2 separate regions of the Homo sapiens genome follow, and region 1 is linked to region 2. Evidence: fine-mapped expression QTL. A gene starts in region 2. The other region holds a variant in brackets. All regions are shown on one strand. Distances are between the middles of the regions.

Region 1 (5,371 bases), 37 kb after region 2:
GGGTGTCATCCACAGCCTGCATCCCACATTAGCAAGTGGGTGTTCTCAGGACACAGACAAGGGTCCTCTAGGAGGGAGGGTGCTGAGCGGGCGCAGTAGGAATGAGTCAGGGAAAGGGCAGTGGCTTGGGCAGAGCTCTTGGACTCTGGGATGTGAGTGAGCACTCCAGGGGGAAAGTGGCAAAGACACCTCTGGGCTGCAGGGCACGTGAGGGGTGAGGCCGGGTGAGGACCCTGGTCCCAGCAGGGGCAGCTCCTCGGACAGCGGCTTTCTCCCCCATCAGCCTTGGCGCCTGCCTCAGGAGCCCCATTAGGGCCCTGGCACCTCCTTACCCCATGCCTAGTAGGCTCTGGGCCAGGGGCCTGGTAACCACCCAGGAGCCGTGTGCTTTGTGTAACCTTTGCGCTTGGCCCTGGGGGATGCTGGCCTCAGCTGCTGCTGTCCACTCCCACCCCTTGTGCATCTGCTTTCTGCTCAGAGCTCTGCACTCAGCAGGGACTTCACATTATATCCGCCCTGCTCTCCTAGGTGTCGCGTTGTAGCAGCTCGGCTTCCTAGGGGTGTCCGTGATATGTGACCAGAACCCAGACCGTTACCTGAACTAGGGCCCTTGTGATGCGGGACTCCTTGAACAAGAACATGTCGTTCGTGCAGTTGTTGAACTTTTCAACACTGTATCTGGCTGCTTGGAGGACTCCTGGGTCATTGGTCTTTATTGTTTTAGGAAATCCTGGCTTCACACGTGAGTTAAGGTCCTGGGAACAAGTATCTGAAAGAGACAAAGAGCCAGACAAGAACACTGATGTTAGTGGGGCCTTCAGTCCAGGTGTCACGCCTCATGCCTCTGTGATGCTCAGTTCTCTGCTGGCGTGTGTGTCCTGGCCCTACCCACCCCTCACCTGCTCCCCCTCTTACCTACCCCTGTCACCTGTCCCTGCTTACCTGCCCCCACCCTACCCACCCCTAACCTGCCCCCCTCACCTGCCCCCTCACCTGTTCTCCCTCACCTGCCCCCTCTCACCTGCTCCCCTCACCTGCCCCCCTCACCTGCCCCCTCACCTGTCCCCCCCGACACCCCTGCAGTGCATTTATTGCTCCATTTTCAGAGCTGAGGACCAGGTGCCAGGGGGTGCAATGAACCTGTCCCCCACTTTCAGAACCCAGGGTTATTTCCAACGTAAGTGTTAAAAGCGGAACATGTCCCACAGGTGAGATCCTCAGTACGGGATGTAGCCTTAGGATGTAGGGAAAGTCAACCCCAGCCTGGCCCTCTGGGCGGTAGATGGAGGTAGTGCCTCCCACCGGAAGGAGATGGCGCCGTCCTCGTCTCAAGACCTTTTGCCCGCCTGGCTCTCAGTCTCAGGCCCAGCCCCCAGGAGGGCACCCCTCCTGGCAGCCTGCAGCACTTGGTACCCCTGCGCTGCCTCCTGACTTTCCAGGGACAGTCTTTTTCACTCCTATGAGTGACAGTGCACTGTGTCCCCAAGCTTCGTTGGGGTCGGGGAGGCCTGCCCTTCCTGTACCAAGGAGGGCTATATTTGGATAAAAGATGGGGAAGCAGCATCGGGGGCCTCCCCCACAGTCATGTCCCCTAGTATCTGTGCCTGAGGCTGCAGGACGTGCGTCTTTGTGCCTGCTATGGACTGGATGGAAAGCTGGGCCCCAGGGTGTTGAGGGCAGGGTGATTGGGGAATGGGAGGGGACAGGCTTCATAGCTGGGCACTGCAGGGAGGCCTTGCCAGGACGTCAGTGTCAACTCAGAGCGAGGGCCCCAGAGGAGGCCATTCCCACTGCTGTGTGAGGTCTGCAAGAGGCCTTTCCTGGGTCCTGGATGTCTGTGGGTGCACACCAGACCCCACCAAGGGTAGACAGGATGACGAGGTTTCTGGTCACCACGTGGCACCCCCAGGCTGGGTGGTGCAGCGCCGGGAGTGGGCAGAGAAGCATGGGACTGGAAGTTCTGTGGCCTTGGGATTGTCGCCCCATCCCGGTAAAGAGTCTCCATTGTGAAGGGAGGCCACCTGGCAAATGGCTGTCCCGTGGTTGGTTCTGGGCCAGAAGGTGAGCTTCATGGCTGGGCTTTGGATGACTGTGCCTGCCTTGTGCTTTAGCAGCCCAGGGAGCCTGGCCTTCCATCCCAAAAAAGCAGCGCAGTGCTGGTGCCCCACCCCATAGAGAATGCTGGCCACGTGCTGGTCCTGTGTGCTGGTGGATAGCTGTGTCCTGCGCTGGCATGCCCTGGGACTGTCCTTCACACTAATTAGTGTCACACACATCCCCCCTGAAACTGCTGCAGCCTTTGCTTAAGAAGACTTTAGGTGGCTCACGTCTGTAATCCCAGCACTTTGGGAGGCCGAGGCGGGCAGATCACGAGGTCAGGAGATCGAGGCCATCCTGGCAAACACGGTGAAACCTGGTCTCTACTAAAAATACAAAAAATTAGCTGGACATGGTGGCGGGCACCTGTAGTCCCAGGTACTCGGGAGGATGAGGCAGGAGAATGGCGTGAACCCGGGAGGCGGAGCTTGCAGTGAGCCGAGATCGCGCCACTGCACTCCAGCCTGGGCAACAGAGCGAGACTCCGTCTCAGAAAAAAAAAAAAAAAAAAAGACTTTAGGCCTCTGAAGATGGAATAGAAACCGCTCTGTTCCTGAGCACCAGGGGCTGAGCTTGGCCATCTAGGGGAGGTCCTGGAACCTGCATTTCCCCAGGCTCTCAGGTGACTCTGACACTGGTGTTGGCAGTGAGGGGTCCCTTGGGACCTGCAGTGTTACCATCAGGAAGGAGGGGTCCCCAGAGCCAAAGGCAGCTCCTTCTGGTCCTTGTGCTTGTTGATGACAGGAAGTTGAATGTGGCTTTTAGTTA[A/C]AACAAAAAACTGTTCTGGAAACCAGCTTGGTTTCAGCTCATCACTGTCATCTGAACAGCAGAGAAAGAGACACGTGTATGGAAGGGGTAGCATGTGTTCAGTGTATTTTTGCTGTCAGATTAGCGTTTTTTTTTGTTGTTGTTGTTGTTGTTTTGCTTTCTTTCCTCACATTACATTAATATGGCTGTCCATTGTTTTCTTTGTAAAAACTACATTTTATGGCTTTTTCTGACTATAAACTTACCTATTTTTGGTAGAAATTTGAAAAATACAGAGGAGCATAACAAAAAATAATTATTTTTAATATCTTAAAGCTAACCACTATTAACTTTTTTAAAAAATAAAATGTATTTACTTTTGCTTGAGATTAACAGAATTTTAAAAATGAAGTGAAACTCAGTTTACGCTGAACTTCAAATAAATTTCCCTTCCAAGCTCATGACGTTAGTTCCTAAAAGATTGTGGTAAAGTTACAAAAAGGTTATGAAAAATACTGAAATTGGTATTTTTTATTTAACTACATGTTTCCTAAAATGTAGGCTTCAAGTCAATAAACCTTTCACTGTCTTACAGTTGTCTAAACAGATATTAAAAGCTCAGTTTTTAATTTAAAATTGTTTAAAAGTCAAACCTATTTTTAGGATGATTTGTTTAGAGAAATTAACAAGGAAATGTTGATCATTAAGAATTAACACCCCAAAGAGGCCACTCATCTTCAGGGAAGAAAACAAGCAGTCCAGCAGGTGGTGAGCGAATGCAGCTCTTTGAGAGCCTCCGATGGAGTCAAGGAACTGTGAAGAGGACCCCCCAGGGAGGGGGCTCTGGGTTTGCTCCGTGCAACTGAAGGCAGGGAGCGGGAGAATGGGTGCTCTCCTCCTCTGCCTGCTCTGTCTGGAGGGCCCTGCGATGCTGTTTCTTCTCATGTGTGCCCATTCTGCAGGCGAGGAGACCAAGAGCTTGGAGTGCAGGGTGGGGGGCTAAACCCAGGTGTGACTAATTCGAAACACCACTCTCACTTTTTCCTCATTCAAGACGGACTGTTTGGCAGGTGCTAGGGGAGATGCAGGGTGGACTCTAAGACAGGCCCCGCCCACAGTGGTGGGGAGGCAGAGCAGGCCTGGGGCACAGGAGAGGACACCAACCTGAGGGTAAAATGGGTGAGCAGAGGGGCAGGGGATGGGGGAGCAGCTGCAAGGTGGCTGAACTGGCCTAGGGGAGGAGGGAGCTACGTGCTGGGAAGAGTTGGGGAGACCCCGCTGGAGGCTGCTGCTGGGTGCAGAGGGTGATGGTGGTGATGGCCGCGATGACGTCAACGGAAAGAACCCACGGACCGTCAGGCTTGTGAGAAGAAACAAAAGGCACATAAAATCCGTCTGTATAGAAACAATGCCTGGGGCAGGCCAGGCCTGCTCGAGGGGAATGGGGGACCTGCCATGTGCGAGGCTCGCACCAGGAGCCTGCCGGGGCAGCCTGACCCCAGCCCACCACTGCTTCTAATGCGGGGTGGGAGGGGAGGTGGGCCATGCCTGAGACAGGTAGGGAGCTTCCAGACGTAGAAGCTGGAGGTGAGGCAGGGGCGGGCAGGGCCTGATGATACCAGGTGCTGAGCAGGCCCCAGGACACATGGTCACAGGAAGGCAAATGAAACTGTCCCCTAAGGTTGACAAGAATTGCATGCCAGGTTCTGGACAGAAAGATACTCATAATTAAGCTTGAATCAGGCTGCTGCTGGCCCAAGATGTTTTTCAGATCCCAATTCCAGCAACCAGTTTGGAAACCCCCCACGGAGGAACAGGATCATCACGAAAATACAGCTTCTTCCTCTCCCTGTGCTGTGACATCACGCTGCCCCTTCCAGCTATCGAGCTCCAGAACCCTTAAAAACCCGGGCCCCAGCCTCCTCGGGGAGATGGATTTGAGTTTCCTCCATCTCCTTGTCTGGTGATCCTGCGATCACCCTGCTTTTCTGCTGCAGCCCCGTGTTTCTGAGCATCTACTGGCTGTGTGCATGGGGCAAAGTCCTGTCCGGGTGCCCGAGGACCAGTGTGCAATGGGGTGCAGATGTGAAGCTGCCAGGCCAGGGGAGTTGCCAGGGCCTCTGCCCAAGGCAGCAGGGAGCTGCAGTTTCTGACAGCTGCTGGGCATGCCCTGGGCAGGGTACGTTCCTGTCCTCAGAGCATAGGCCCAGTGGCAGAGCTGGCACTAAGCCAACCTGAGGAGAGAAAACATGGGCAGGGATCGCTGTGGTGGCACCAGGCAGACCCTTCCCACCTGCCTTTAGTAGGAAAATGGGTGGGCACAGCGGGGGCTGGCATTGCCCACCTCCTCCCTCTTTCAGGAGTGTTCTAGGTGTGGCCGGGAGGTTGGGAAGCCCCTGCTTGTGAAACCATCCCTGAGATGGGGACCTGGGTGCCGAGAGCTGGACGCAGATGGTCCCTGCTGGTGTCCCTCCCTGTGTCACCTCAGGGGGTGCCCTTTCCATGGGCCAGTACTGAGCTGGGTGGG
Region 2 (5,371 bases):
CTATCTGTCAATGTCTGGCAACATTTTTTATCATCACGACTAGGTGGGATGCTACTGCCATCTAGTGGGGGAAGCCCAGGGATGCTGCTGAAACACCAGCGCACAGGAGAGGCCCCCCTCCGCCTCCTAACAGAATTATCTGGCCCAAAATATCAGTGGTGCTGAGAAACCTGATCAAATTAATCATAGTGGTCCCATTCCTCTGCCAACAACTGGCATCAGCACGATGAGAAACAAAGTCGGTCTGGTTGGAAGGTGGGGTGGGAGAACTGATAACTGAAACAAATACAACAAGCAAAGCGTGCTTCACCGTGACTTGAAAACAGAAAAACTGTACTGAACCCGTGCTATGCAGCACAAATGATCTAGCTCAGACCACTGTAACACCAACTACCTACGTGCTTCATGATAAGCCCACGAGCTGACCTCCTGATAACTCCGAATGGACTTACATGTCCCAGAGCTAAGGCCACGGTTCCTCCAGTGACTCCCGTTGTTAACGGATTCTGACCAACCCTGGGCAAGACTATCGATGGACTAACTCCAGCCCCCAAACCCCACAAGGAGTCTCCCATGACTCCCCCATTTTGAGGAACCTCACCGGTCCTCTGGTGCATTTCTTTGCTGCAGCAAGTTCAGTAAACCCAACTTACTGCCATTATTTTTCTTCTGAATGTGTCCCTGGGTGTTTGCAGTGCGTGGGCTTTAACACTGGGCATGGAACACAAATAGCTCCAATGCAGTGAGTTCAATGTTATGGCTGGGACATGTTTAAAGTGCCTTGAAGACAAAGAGGAAGATGTTCTGCTTGGGAAACTGGGAGAAGAATTTTCAGCAAGGATACTTGAAGTGGGTCCTGAATGATAAAAATAATTGGCCAAGTGGAGGTGAAGGAGAGTGTATCACAGGAAGAAGGAACCTCAAGGACAAAGGCAGCCAGGCATGAGATTAGACATGTTAAGCCATCCTGAATGTCTGAAATGGGGGGTGGGGAGCAAGAGGGATAGTCCAGACAGGCAGGAAGGCGTGAGATCATACAGTACTTTGTTAACACTATCCCTGATTTAATAGCTGTATTGGCTATTCTCAATGACACAGAATGAAGTAAAATGTTGTCGAGGCCTGAATTATTACCTGGGATCTCTGGAGAACTGGATTTGCACAGCTCTCCACTTCCCTCAAGCTGGTTCTTCCGCTCTTTGAATGAATAAATAAAAAGCATTCACATGGAATTCTAGTGCCATCTAGCATTTAAAAAGGTAAAAGCCTCCAAGAGGAAATTATTTCTTAACACTGCATTTTGAACATGGCTTTTCCAGAGATAATTCCTCGTGCCACTGGTAACGGGCTTTGATTTCTTCTGCCTGTCACTTCCTCCAGATTCGATTCCTCTTTGAATCTCAAATGCTCTCACAAGATTCAGCTCTTCCCTTTTGAAGCAATTATTACGTTTGATAATTTTACGTCTATTTTATGATGATGATCTGATTAAAGTCATCTTTCCCACTAGTTTAATTTCTATAAGGAGGGGCCTTGTCTGTGATTTGCCCACCATCGTCTCCCAGCACCTGGGAACATTTCTGGTTTCCTGCAATACTGTTGAAAGAACAATGCCTCTCTATGCTTTCTTAAACTTTGTTAGTGATAATTTCTACTTCTACCTGGACTTTACTTAAGGGTAATCCTTAATAAACTTTATCAAAACTTAATAAACTTTATCAAAACTTAATAAACTTTATCAAATGTCTGTTGTAATCGTCACAAAAAGATTTAATACTCAACATCTGGCCTTAACCAGAGGGAAACATTTTCTAGCCCAAGTTTTCCCCTTAACCGGCTGAGTCGGGGAAGGATGTAATTTTCAGGCAGAGGTGACTTCGTTCCAAGGGTGTGAATGCATTATTTTTGACGCTGCCTGTAAGAGCAGGGTCGCTGACACTGAATAAACAGCGCTATCCTCTCCAACGATAAAAGTGGCCAACATCTCGTGCTAGCAATTCCCAAGTGCGTCATGAGCATCCCCGTCCTCAGAAACGTGAGACGAAGGCGGCATGCGCAGGCACTGGGCTAGACGAGCCCGAGGTTGAACCACTCGCGTTCTGGGCCCCGGAGTCCGAGACAGGCGGGGACCCCGGCAGCTCCCGGTGCTATCTCTGAGCGGGTTCCGAGCCCCACTTCCGGGCGGTCAGAATTAGCCTCAGAGCGCCGAGCAACGACGCGCCGGGGACCTCCCGCCCATGAGGCCGGAAGGGGCGGGGAGAACGCTGCGGAATGGTCCCTGGGCGCAACGTCATTTCCGCGTACGGGGGAGGGCGGGCCTGGAGTCTGAGCCGGCGCCGCTCAGTGTGAGGTGGTTTCTGCGGGTGAGGCTGGCGCCCGTACCATGAGCGAGGCGGACGGGCTGCGACAGCGCCGGCCCCTGCGGCCGCAGGTCGTCACAGACGATGATGGCCAGGCCCCGGAGGCTAAGGACGGCAGGTAGGGCGGACTCCCAGACTGGGCGCTGGAGCCGGGCCGCTAGGAGTGGAGGGCGACCCTCTTGGACAGCGGCGACGGCAGTAACAGTAACCTGGGGATGCGGTGCCGAGCGCGTTGTCAGAGTCCTCTCGTTTCATCCCCAAGAAAAACTCATTTTTCCGAGGAAGCAGGCTCCGACAAGGCGGATGTACCTGCCAGGTCTTTCAGGTTCGGGTGCACCCTGCGCCCAGTCGCCGCGTTGTCCTCGGCTCTCCGGACCCGAGACCGCCTCGCGCCGCTCCTTTGCCTTCCCTCCCTCACTCCTGCCCCACCCTGCATAGCGGTTGCTTCCTCGCCTTTCCCTCGCTCCCCTCGCGCTGTCCTTCCTTTGGCTTAAATGATCCCCCTGAGCACAGCTACTTGGCCGGGGCCCTGCGTGTTCCTGGTTCCCCGCTCGCAATTTCCCGAAGGGAGGAGGTCCCACGAGATGCTGGGGTCCTGCCTCGTTATCCGGCGAAGAGATGGCTTCTACACTTGCTCTTCTGCACCTGCCCCCCTCACGCTGCGTGACCAGTCCTCACCGCGGTTCTTGGAAAGAGTGGAGAACAGTAGTGACATTGTAGGCAATTTTTGTGAGAATTCAGCCTGGCAGTTTTTCCTGATAGGGATGGAGAAACATAGGAAACTGTAGTTGTTGACACCTAAGAAATATCAGGTTTTGCCCTTTGCCTCCTCTCCCATCTTTCAGAATATAAGAATGCTGTGTTTTGTTAGCTAAAAACTGAATCATGATTCGTAAGCATAGATTTCAATATAAGATACTTAAAATTCACTTTTCAATTCTGTGTCCTGAATTTCATAACTTTTAAGTTTCAGGGAGAATCAAGAGGCCCCATAGACCAAGCTTGAAGTTGTGGGACTGATTGACTTATATTTGATAGAAATACTGGAAATATTTGTTCATCAGTAGTGTGCCAAGAGGTGGTGGGGTACATATGAATGAGAGGCAGTTTTTGCCCCTGTAGACTGAGTTTATTGACTGATGATAAGAGGAACACATTTGAAGGAGAGCGATGGCAGGAAGGAGCATTTAGGCTCTAGAGAGGCAATTTAGAGAGAAGACTTTGCGGTGATAGTTGACTCCTTGGGCCAGTGAAAAGATCGGGAAGATGCTCCCATATATCCTGACCAACCATCCTGCGTTGCCCTGGACTGGGGTTTCCAAGGATGTAGAACTTTCAGTGCTAAACCTGGGCAAACTGGGACAATCTGATCACCCTACTTACTGTGAATATTGTGAATTAATCATCTGTTGATGATTGAGGAGCCATTTAGAATGGACATGCAAGAATTGGCAACACTTTCCTACAGAAATCTTGAAAACAAGGCATTTTTACCTGAGAAATGGAAGAGCAGTGGCCTGAGTTTGTCATTAGGTGCAGTGTGTTGAAAACCAGGGCCTACAGCCCCTGAGGGCACCGGTTAGGTAGTCCCAACTCTCAAGTTGGCTGGCTCACACTTCTGGCCCCAGGGCAAGCAGGCAGACTTAATTGTTTTTTTCAGGTTCTCTGTGGGGATTTCTTCCTTAATGAGTAAGTAAATCTGATTCTAAAGTCATCTTTTACTGCCTGATCTTTTCCAGTGTGCCTTTTACATTTATGTTTACTTATTTCCTTGACTTCCCTGTCCATGAACATTGTTCCTGTTTCCCTGTGTTTGTCCTTCTTGTTTGTTTATCCCTTTTCTGTATATCTGTAATGATCTCTTTCAAAGTGAGGTCTTGTCACCACCCTTCCTTTCCGCAATTATTATTGTAACATGGTAGCTGTTTTTCTTATTTTTCTTCTGCATTTCTCCTATATTTTTCATTTATTTTGTGGTCATTTCTAGTAGTTCATGTAATAGTATTCTTGATTACCTTAAAAGTCGAGGGTTCAACATAAGCCAGGAAAGCCTGTGTATAGTGGGCGAAGTAAAGGAATCTAAATTCAGAAGTAAAAACACGAAACTATTAGAATAAACTTTAGCACTTTAGATGTGCTAAATAGAATAAAGGAAGCCTTGAAAGACATATTACTAAACTGACAGAACTAAGACATAGATTTTAGCAGTGGTAGGGACCCCTAGTAATACGTTGGGTGGTCTCCCAACTCTTGGCACAAAAGGTGGGTGTTTGCTTTGTTTTGCTGATGAGATCATTGAGGTCTATGTGTGTGAGGTGGTTTATATGAAGTTACAGAGAATAGAGTCAAAAGAGAAATGAAAATGAATGAAGAAGGATAGAACTGGCAGCTGGACAATGACTGAGAAGTGTATTTTTAAAATTATGCTTTGGAAATAAGACTTTATGCCAAAGCTCTTGAATTACTGTATTTGAAATATAATGGAGAATTTGGTTGGTAAATTCTTTTATTCAGTGTGGAACATAGATGAGCTAAGTACTTTAACATACCGGTGCAAGCTTATAATTATTATTTGACATTGATTTCCCGAAATGCTTTAGAAACTTAATTGTACTCTGTGGAACTATTCCTTTCTGTTTGAAACACAGTTCTATCTAGGAAGAGAACTGTTTAATGTCCATATGTGACTGTTTAGGGATGCAGAATAAATACATTGAGGATTTAATATGTTTCAATACATTAAATTCTGTATAATTCTCCTTTTTCAATAAACTTCTGAAGGATTTTAGTTTAATTAAAAGTCTGCTAGGTCCATTTTCCTTTTTCCTCTTGGAGACTGAAGAGTAAGGGAGGAAGTATGGAGAAACAGATTGGGCATTCACGAATTCATGAGGAGTAAGGCAGCTGGAGTGTTTGTCTCAGCTTTGCCCCAGGTGTGTATTTTCAGATGGCTTTTTAAACTTGTTTCTTGATTTCTTAATTTTTTTCAAGGATAAATTGATGAATCTAGG

Evidence for each region. PIP is the estimated chance that this variant, and not a neighbour inherited with it, causes the effect. A credible set is the group of variants that fine-mapping cannot tell apart.
Region 1: its variant is the best candidate, but not a certain one, in a credible set for the expression of APMAP in whole blood (TOPMed, PIP 0.83).

The regions. Positions count from the first base shown.
Region 1 is chr20:24,952,685-24,958,055 of GRCh38, reverse strand. CST7 (cystatin F) reads right to left here. Exons shown (of 4, transcript NM_003650.4): 2 at 597-769. Among named protein-coding and RNA genes, the nearest start is that of CST7, 6.1 kb to the right of the region's middle. RefSeq lists an enhancer at 2,679-2,808. The variant A/C (reference allele first, on the strand shown) is at 2,866.
Region 2 is chr20:24,989,701-24,995,071 of GRCh38, reverse strand. It overlaps APMAP (adipocyte plasma membrane associated protein), which reads left to right and starts at 2,321. Exons shown (of 9, transcript NM_020531.3): 1 at 2,321-2,478. The coding sequence starts at 2,384. RefSeq lists enhancers at 1,767-2,267, 2,180-2,419, 2,550-2,629, 2,650-2,709, 2,268-2,768.